2 separate regions of the Homo sapiens genome follow, and region 1 is linked to region 2. The links come from fine-mapping of genetic effects on gene expression. Tissue or cell type: whole blood. Region 2 holds a variant in brackets; the other region holds the start of a gene. All regions are shown on one strand. Distances are from middle to middle.

What was found. PIP is the estimated chance that this variant, and not a neighbour inherited with it, causes the effect.
Region 1: it holds the start of SLC5A10, and the variant in region 2 is fine-mapped to the expression of SLC5A10 in whole blood (TOPMed, PIP 0.98).

What each region holds. Positions count from the first base shown.
Region 1 is chr17:18,950,087-18,955,086 of GRCh38, forward strand. SLC5A10 (solute carrier family 5 member 10) reads left to right here and starts at 2,079. Exons shown (of 15, transcript NM_001042450.4): 1 at 2,079-2,230. The coding sequence starts at 2,120.
Region 2 is chr17:18,974,342-18,979,341 of GRCh38, forward strand. It overlaps SLC5A10 (solute carrier family 5 member 10), which reads left to right. Exons shown (of 15, transcript NM_001042450.4): 9 at 2,513-2,648. FAM83G (family with sequence similarity 83 member G) reads right to left here. Exons shown (of 6, transcript NM_001039999.3): 5 at 3,243-4,509. Among named protein-coding and RNA genes, the nearest start is that of SLC5A10, 25 kb to the left of the region's middle. The variant C/A (reference allele first, on the strand shown) is at 2,614.

The sequences.
Region 1 (5,000 bases), 24 kb before region 2:
AATAGGTGATCCCGTTGGGTCAGGTGGGGTGGGAATGTGGGTGTGACTGGGCTTCGGGTGGCGTTTCTTCTCCCGCAGACATGGCTGGGCTTGTTTGGTACTTCTCCCTCCATGTCCTCCGCTGCCACCCTCCTCCTGTCCCCGTCCTTCAGGACAGAACCAGCAAATCAGTCTCAGCCCCTTAAGAGCACCTTTACTGGTGCTTTCTTTCCCTAGGATTTTTTTTCTCTTTTTTCATTTTTTTCCATTTAAACTCAGTGGCAAAAATCCCAAGGACTTTTGATCCAAAGGCGGCAGTTATCACTAAGTGGTTTATTTCCTTCTAAGACCTAGCCAACGGTCTCAGAGCCAATGCTGCTGGTACAACTACTCTATTAATGGGATAGTTTTGGTAAGTCTGGATCCTCCCAGCTGGGTCCTCCTGATCAGTGCAAAGCAGCCTTTTGTTTTAAAACACATTGCAAGCAATGGCTTGGGAAGTAAACACCATCTGAGGCTCGCTGGCCAGAGGCAAGGGGAGACGGCAGGCAGTTGAGCCTGCCTGAGGGTTCTCTCAGCAGTGACTTCCTTTTTCCCTTCCTTCTTCTGCCTAGTCCTGTATGTGAGGACTATTAATTGTTTTTTGTTGTTGTTGTTGTTTGTTTTGTGAGATGGAGTCTCCCTCTGTTGCCCAGGCTGGACTGCAATGGCGCAGTCTTGGCTCACTGCAATCTCTACCTCCTGAGTTCAAGCAATTCTCCTGCCTCAGCCTCCCAAGTAGCTGGGATTACAGGTGCGTACCACCATGTCTGGCTAATTTTTGTATTTTTAGTAGAGACGAGGTTTTGCCATGTTGGCCAGGCTGGTCTCAAACTCCTGATCTCAGGTGATCCACCCGCCTTGGCCTCCCAAAGGCATGAGCCTCCCAAGGGCATGAGCCACTGCTCCTGGCCGAGGGGATTAATTTTTACCCGCACCTCAGGGTTATTGAGTAACAGGCTGGCTGGGTTTGCAGGCCAGCGTGTTCCTGGTGGCAGCCGCTCACTCATTAACACTTCTGGAAGTGCTGCATGTCTGGTTAAACTGCAAATGCTTTGCAAAGTCACGAGTCATGTCACTGAGCAGAGGCGTGAGACTGCCGGCCAGCCCTGCTGTGTACACTGATAGAATTAGTGAGCGAGCGTCCCACTCTGATGGAATCCAGATGGAACTCGTCACTGTCACTGCGGTGGAGACGGTGGGGCCACATCTGCACTGAATCCTACTCTGCGCCTTCAATGGCTGCGTAATGGCGGATGGCCATTTCCTTGACTAGGATGAGACATTGCCTACTCTGCGTGGCTGCTGTGAGCGTGAAATGGGATCATGTGCGGAACAGCCACGCATGGTCCGTGAAATGGGATCATGTGCAGAACAGCCACGCATGGTCCTTGGTGTGTGACAGATATTGGGTCCCTCTGTGGTCCCAGGCAGACATTGCCCGGGGTGGGGGCCGAATGCATGGTCAAGTTGAGGGGCCTGGGACTGTTTCACGGGTCTAGAAAAAGAAAGCAGAAACGCTGGAAGCAGGACTTTATTGTCCGACATGGGGCTGCCTCTGAGCCTGGGCTGTGTTGGCTGGACGTGAGCCATAATGCAGGTGTCCCCCTCCCAAGCCCTGCTCAGTCCACTCACAGCCCGATGGCCAAGGGAGGACATGGCTGCCCGCCACGGCAGTATCTTCAGAGGTGAGGCGGTTGTCCCTACGCTCTATGCTTCTTATACAAATTAGATATAGGTGAAGCCACCCATTAAGCAACCCAGCCTTTCTGGGACTATTTGGGCTGCCTCCGGGTCCACTAAATGCGGTTCATTTTCCCCAAGCCCCCTCCGAGTTCAAGGAGGCTCCTTCCTTTCCTCCTCCCACTTGCTTCTCCCAGGCTCCCTGACTCCTGCGCTCTGGGATCTGCACCCCACCATGGGGTGAGGAAGCTGAACTGCATGGTGAGGCAGCTGCCCTGCATGCAGCCACATCATGGGCTGGAGATGCCACTGTCCGCTTGGTTTAATGATCAATGAGCTCCCTGCCAGGAAACCCTTTCTGACCTGGTTTGCCCCTCAGTCCCTCGGGCTCATACCTAGTGCCTGCGGCAGGACAGCCATGGCCGCCAACTCCACCAGCGACCTCCACACTCCCGGGACGCAGCTGAGCGTGGCTGACATCATCGTCATCACTGTGTATTTTGCTCTGAATGTGGCCGTGGGCATATGGGTAAGGGGACCTGTGGTGGTGTTGGCCAAGTGGGCTCTCAGGGTTGGTGCTTGGGGTGGGAACCGGGGTCCAGCATGTCCCTGTGGTGTCAGCATTGGTCCCAGCTGGTGGCCTAGTGATCCTTGTGGTCCTCCTCCCAGCCTGGGGTAGACTTGCTTGGAGACCTTGACCAAGCCCGTTTCTCTCTTTGGGTAATGGCGTCTCCATCTGCAAAGTGAGGAGGAGGAAATTCTCTCTAACAGGTAACTGGGCTTTTGTGCTGCTGCCCAGCTGGAGTCCTTGGGTGTGGCCCATCAGCCTCCTGGTCCCAGTCTCCATGGTGTCAGTGACTCCTGTCTGCTTGAACAACAGGCTCCCCGGGATTCCCTGGCTGCACCCCAGAGCTGCTGGATCAGAATCCGGAGGCAGGGAGGGCCCTGGGAACTGGGGGTCTTTATTTTGAACAAGCTCCCTGGGGATTTATGTCCTGTGGCCTAGCCCTAGATCATAAGCCGGTTCTTTCTCCCTTCATAACAGTGAGAAATGAGCAGAGATCTGACCCCACACACAGATTCCAGGGGCAGCGGGGCCCCTGGGGACAGGCTGTTTCATGTGCAGATGGAGAAACCGAGGCTCTGGCCCTGCAGCAAGGGAAGGGCTCCTCTGGTCTATCGTGGAGGCCTTCCTGAGGGAAGGTGGACACAGCCTGGTTCAGGTCACCTGCTCCACGCTTAGCGCCTGGGGATGTTGGGCTCCACTTCTTAAGCCCCAGAGGTCCCCAGCCTGGCATCCCTGAGCCCTGACAGTCTCCTGGGGAGAATGAGTACCCCTTCTTTTTTTTTTTTTTTTTTTTTAACTGAGACGGAGTCTAGCACTGTCACCTGGGCTGGAGTGCAGTGGCACTATCTCGGCTCACTGCAACCTCCACCTCCTGGGTTCAAACAATTCTGCCTCAGCCTCCTGAGTAGCTGGGATTACAGGCGTCCACTACCACACCCAGGTAATGTTTTGTATTTTTAGTAGAGACAGAGTTTTACCGTGTTGGCCAGGCTAGTCTCGAACTCCTGACCTCATGATTTGCCCGCCTCGGCCTCCCAAAGTGCTAGAATTACAGGCGTGAGCCACCGCGCCCGGCCGAGTACCCGTTCTTATCTTCCATAACCCCTGGCCTAAGCACGAAGGCCTGGCAAACAGGAGACTGGTCACGTCCCCTCAGCTTCCTGGGCCTCAGTGTTCTGATCTGTTATATGGAGACACCACCTACCTGGGGTGAGGTCTGCTATCAAGGGGCCCACACAGGACCAGACCTTGCTGCTGCCATTGGTTCTACAGTGGTAGCAGTGGTGGTGGTGGTGGCAGTTGTAGCAGTGGTGATTATAAGAGTAGCAGCCGCAGTCATTAAAATTAATTATCACAGGTTGGATTTCAAAAATCTGAAACCCAAAATCTGGAACATTTTGAACACCAACATGATGCTCAAAGCAAATGCTCATTGGAGCATCTCAGATTTTAGAGTTTTGGGTTGGGGATGTTCAACTGGCAGGTATTCTGTAAGTATCTCCAAATCTGAAAGAGTCCGAAATCCAAAACTTTTCTGGTTTCAAATATTTCGGATAACGGCTCCTCAACCTGTATGTGATTAAATATTAACTCACAAGTAGCCCAGTGCTGGCCATCGGCAAAGCCGAGTTCAAGTCTCGGCTCTGCTCTGTGTACTTAAGTCACTTAATCTCTGTGGGCTTCAGTTTCCTCAAACACGCAATGCGGGTTTCTGTGCAGCCCACATCTCAGGGCTGTTCCAAGGAGCAAGGGTCCAATGGAAGTGAAAATCTGTTGCAAACTGTAACGTGCTATATTCCTGTGACAGTTGGTGGCTAGAATTCAGAGGAGGAGGTGCCCACGTGGGGCAGAACAGACAGTGGAGGGTTTCTGGATGAGGGGAGGTAAGGGCCAGGCAAGATCTGAAGAGGGAAAGAGGAGGGGAGACAAGGCTGTCCTGGCTAGCACGTCTAAGAAAGATGTTCTGGGCACCTGAGGCCAGACCCTTTGTAGCCCAGTGACTTGGGCCACCAGCCCTTGTTGCCCATGACCCACCTCTCCTAGTGAGTCAGCTTGCTGTTTGCAGGCTGGTGCCCCTGGAAGTAGGGCTGTAGGAGTTCTGCCCTGTCCCTCCTAGCAGGCTAGGCTGGCCCAGCTGGGAGCGGCTGGCAAGAGAGCAGTGAGCACATCCAGAAAAGATCAGAACCAGACAGGGAGGATGCTGGAGATGCATCCCACAGGGAGAAGCAGACAGAGCAAGCCAGGCAGGTGCAGCCCTGCAAAGATGTTTAGATGGTGGGCCTGGGAGAGTCTGGCGGGGGCCGGGGGGAGGCCTTTAAGGAAGAGATGTTCCTGGAGGAGGGGACTTTGAGCTGAGCCTTTGCATTCATTAAAGTATCTGTTAACAAGTGACTGAAAACTGCTTTCAAATGAGCTCTAAGAATATAGGAAATGTAGGCCGGGCGCAGTGGCTCATGCCTGTAATCCCAGCACTTTGGGAGGCCTAGGCGGGTGGATCACGAGGTCAGGAGTTTGAGACCAGCCTGGCCAGCATGGTGAAAGCCCGTCTCTACTTTTGTATTATTTTGTGATAATACAAAAATTAGCCAGGCGTGGTGCCAGGCGCCTGTAATCCCAGCTACTCAGGAGGCTGAGGCAGGAGAATTGCTTGAAACCGGAAGGCGGAGGTCGCAATGAGCTGAGATCACGCCACTGCACTCCAGCATGGGCAAAAGAGTGAAACACTGTATCA
Region 2 (5,000 bases):
GTAGGTGGCATTTTTCTAACCAGAAACAAAACCAGTAACAAAGAGGCAAAGGGTCCAGTGGACAGAGCCCTGGTCTGGGCTCCCGTCTGGGCTATGCCCCTGCCCCTCCCTGGGCCTTGGTGTCCCTGTCTGTGAAACAGGGCAGTGCACAGACCAGAAGGCCTCCCAGGGTCCTGCCAGCTCTGTCACCTGCTGATGCCGCAGCTCCAGGCCGGGTGCCCTCCCTTAGTCAGTAGCAGCCACCTCAGTCATAACAGCAACCACAGCTTTCGTGGGCAGCGTGCTGACTCCAATGGCCACACCCCAAAACTCACTCATCATCTTCCCTGAGAAAGAGAACTCACATTCACCGGAGGCCCTTGAGGAGCCAGGGACAGGCTTGGCCGGCTACACTAGCAGCCTCACTTAAGTCGTTGCAACAACTCTCCTCATTTTGCAGATGAGGAGCCCAAGGTGAAATGGCCACTCAGGGAGTGAGTGCCGGCTTCCTCAGGGAAGAGCGCCTGGCTGGGACTAGACACCAGTGCTGGGAGGTGGGGGTGAGCAGTGGCCTGCTGACATCTGAGTTGGGGGCCCAGCCTTGCTATCTGACAGTCAGGGGTGGGGAAAGCCCCTGCCCTATTCAGGGGGACTGGCAGGCCTCACAGCTCATGGAAACTCTGAGCCTCAGCTTCTCTACTTGGGGTGACAGCACCTGTCCCAGGGCCAGCTGACATGAGCACAGATTGGAATATAGAGGCAAATATCCCACCAATGGCAAAAAGACATTCAGGGTCTTAGGGAAATGCTTCTCTCCCAAGCACCTAGACAGAACCACCGTCTAACTCTCTCATTGTCCAGATGGGGCAACTGAGGCCCAAACTGAGGCAAGGGCTTCTCCCAAGTCACAGCAAGCTGGCAGAGAAGCAGGAAGGACAGCAGCTTGCCCTGCGTTCGGAGGCTGCAGCCCGCAGGCATTCCTAGCCTCTGTAATTAATGTTTCCGTGACATCCACAGCTTAGGGGTAAATGCTGGGAGCCGTCCGTTAAACTAGCAAGCTTGGAAAGTAAGTTAAAATCACGGAGGCAGCCGGATGCGGTGGCTCACACCTGTAATCCCAGCACTTTGGGAGGCCGAGGCGGGCAGATCACCTGAAGTCGGGAGTTCAAGACCAGCCTGACCAACATGGTAAAACCCCATCTCTACTAAAAATACAAAAAAAAATTAGCCGGGCGTGGTGGCTCATGCCTGTAATCCCAGCTACTTGGGAGGCTGAGGCAGGAGAATCCCTTGAACCCTGGAAGGCAGAGGTTGCGGTGACCCGAGATTGCGCCATTGCACTCCAGCCTGGGCAACAAGAGTGAAACTCCATCTCAAAGAAAAAAAAAATCATAGAGGCTTCCTGCTCCTGAGTTGCAGCTGGTGACTTAAACTGTGGAACCGCAAAGGAAAACTAGTTACGTTTCAGAGTCATAGGTCGTACAACTTTGTGAACGTACTAAAAACCATGGGAACAGTGTACACTTTGGGTGAATTATATGGTCTGTGAATATCTCAATAAAGCTGTTTAAAAAGTAACTCTTTTGGGCTGGGCACGGTGGCTCACGCTTGTAATCCCAGCACTTTGGGAGGTCGAGGCGGGCGATCACGAGGTCAGGAGATCAAGACCATCCTGGCTAACAAGGTGAAACCTCGTCTCTATTTTAAAAATACAAAAAATTAGCCGGGCGTGGTGGCAGGCGCCTGTTGTCCCAGCTACTTGGGAGGCTGAGGCAGGAGAATGGCGTGAACCCGGAGGCGGAGCTTGCAGTGAGCCGAGATCGCACCACTGCACTCCAGCCTGGGCGACAGAGCAAGACTCCGACTCAAAAAAAAAGTAACTCTTTTGAAGTAGAATCGTAATATCAGTGCTGGGAGAGATCTCAGACATTATGGGTCCAAATTACCGCTCCCTCCTCCCATTCTGCAAATCTGGAAAGGCCTGGTTAGGATTTGCTGAAGGCTCCCAGAAGGGCCGGTGTCCTCAGATAGCTTCTAGCCTCCCTCTGCTACTGAACTGCAAGCTTTCAAAACCCCAGGTCTTAAAGCACCTGAACTCTGCCAGCCATGCAAACACAGTTGGCGCCAGTGTCTGCTCCTGGCACTATAAATGTGCCAGCTGCTGTCATGAGGGTCCAGGAGATGAGGGTAGGGGTGTATGTCCCCATACCACCCCACCCAGGGTCTCCTCCAGCCCTGACAATTGCCAGGGGTGGTGGGCTGGGCAGGATCCACACCTCCCCTATTGACAGGTCAGGGGACTGAGTCCCTGGGAATGAGTGTACCTCGGCTCTCGCTGCTTGGCCTGCTGAAGTGAGCTCTCCTGGTGGGACCCTGACAGTATTGGGGCTTTGAGTGTGGCTGTTTTGGGCAGGTCAGAGGCTAATGGGACATCATCGTGCCTCATGCCCATTCCCTGAGGCCCACCAAGGACCAATCCTGACACAAGTGTCCCTCAGGCTTGGACTCACCCCGTCTCGCACTCCACCCCCAGGTCATCGTGCAGCGATCACTGTCAGCCCGGGACCTGAACCATGCCAAGGCGGGCTCCATCCTGGCCAGCTACCTCAAGATGCTCCCCATGGGCCTGATCAT[C/A]ATGCCGGGCATGATCAGCCGCGCATTGTTCCCAGGTAGGACGGGCTCCGGGCACTGAACCCAGGCTGCAGGGCACCCAGGGTTCTGGGACCTTGTCCTGCAAACGTCACCAGAAGAAGAGGCAAAGGATAGATGTGAACTGTTCCCCAACCTGGGGAGTGGGGAGAGTGGTCCTCAGGGCCACAATCAAAGGGATTAACATGGATGTGGCTTGGCACAAGGTCTGGACAGGTATCACTTACTGCTGTGTGACCTCAAGGCTGTAAATGAACGTCCCTGTGCCCCGCCTTTTCCTCATCTGCAAACTAGGGACTGTGCCACCCATCTGGCAGGTGCCATCAAGATCCTCTAACCACAGGCTTTGGAGACCTCTAGGTGGGGAAACGTGCATTTTCTTAGGTTGCCTTTTCAGGATGCTGGGACCAAGAGTCCCCAGCATTAATGATGGCCTTCCATATGGCCCTGGCCGGTTCCCACCCCTGCCTGTTCATCAAGTTTCCCCATCTGTAACAAGGGAATTGAAGTCATCAGAGTCAGGGACATGGTAGCCCAGAAGACAACAGCTCGAGCTCTTGGGTGGCTGGCAGGGAGGGACTCGTGACCCCTGGTGTGCAGGGACCCTGACCCACCTGTGCCTCCTTGTCTGTGGAGCGCTGGGCCTGCATCCTCTTCAACGCATCTGCTTCTTCTCTTCCCCGACTCTGGGCCCATGGGGAGCCACCCTGGGGTCCAACAAAGGTCCCTCGGGTTATATGGGGGGCACTCAGCTGCCGGCGCGGTGGTGGGGTTGGCCCGTTGGCCACTTGCTCTGAGTGGCGCCTCCGGAGAGGGACTGAGTGCTCTCTCACCTCGAAGTACTCCTCTGACACAGAGGAAGCCACTGAGGGCCGTCGGGGGCCAGGGCCACGGCCGGAGCTGCCTGAGTGGCTGTCCTGGTCACTGAGGGTTACGTAGTCGTCATCATCTTCTTCTTCCACCCCATCCAGCCCATTGGGGAGCCCCACCCCGAGGCTCTCGGGGTCATCCTGGGTCACAGATAGCTGCCGCTGGAGTGGGGCGTGGCCTGGGCCTGCCATCCTGGGTAGCCTATGGTCTGTCCCATTCTGGGGAGCTTCCTCTTTGGGGAGCTCCAGGACCCAGCCAATATCACTGCTGTCCCGGGCTAGTACATCTGCCACAGGGACTGTCCGGGGCTTGGGCACGGGGGGCAATGGCTCAGGGTCCCCCTGGGGGAGGCCGTTCTCAGCTGGGACACCGTCCTGGGGGGCACTGGGCTCTGGGGGAGGGCAAGGCTCTGGACGGGGCCTGCTGTCCTGGCTCTGCTTCCACAGCTGGTGCTGGGCGCTGGCCTGGGAGGTGTCACGGATCTTGATGCGGTTCATCTGGCTGGGCTGGGGGTTCCAGATGTTGGGGTCGATGATATTGATGTAGCCCAGGATGTCGCTGCCAGGCTCCGGGTCTGGCTCCACCCACGTGGGCAGGTACTCAAACATGTTGGCCCTCTCCAGGTGAAGCAGTCCTGGGTGGATGGGTGGCAGCAGCTCGGGGAGTTCCCCTGGATGCTCAGCCAGCGCTGGGCCTTTCAGCCCCAGGGGCTTCTTGGCCTCCTGCTTCTCAGAGGAGATCTTGGCAATCTCGTCGACGCTCTTGGCCTTGACAAGTGCGTACTTGGGGTTGACGAGCTTCTTGGCCACAGTGCCCGCGGGCACCAGGGGGACCACAGAGGGCAGCACAATAGGCTCCGGCTCCGGTTCCTTCTCCATAGGGATGCCCTTGAGGCTCACACTGTGTGACATGAGGTACAGCTCCTGGAACTGCCGGTCAAACATCTCCACCACCTGGCCAGACAGCACAGAGATCACATTCCGGTCCGTCCGCGCGGCCGACCACGTGAAGCTGCAACAGAGGGAGGGGGCGCTGGTCAGGCACATGACCCTGCTTCCTCCGCCCAGCCCCCGTGCACCCATAGCCGCTGGGCCTCAGACTGTGGCCACAGGGCCCTGGGATCAAGAAGTGAATGGGGGCAGAGAGCAGGTGCATACTGTGGGGTCAGACTGAGTCGGATGTCAAGCAAGTTGGTTGCACCAAGCCCATTCCCACCTCTGCAAATGACAGGGCACTGTGCTCCTCTCAGGCTGGTACAGGATTCACTAAGCAGCTCAGGAAGGCCCTGGACACTGTGGGGGGTTCTGCATGTGGTGGCCGCTGCTGCCATGCGTCTATGCTGCCACCAACCCCCATGTAACCATGGGCAGCGCCCACCCCATGCCCCATGTGGTGGTGCCCACAGAGCTGGCCCCATCCCTAAGGACGGCTCTCAGAGTGACCCCCATAGGCTTGCGAAGGCACGGCCTGGCCACACCCCACCTCCAGGCCGGTGACATCTC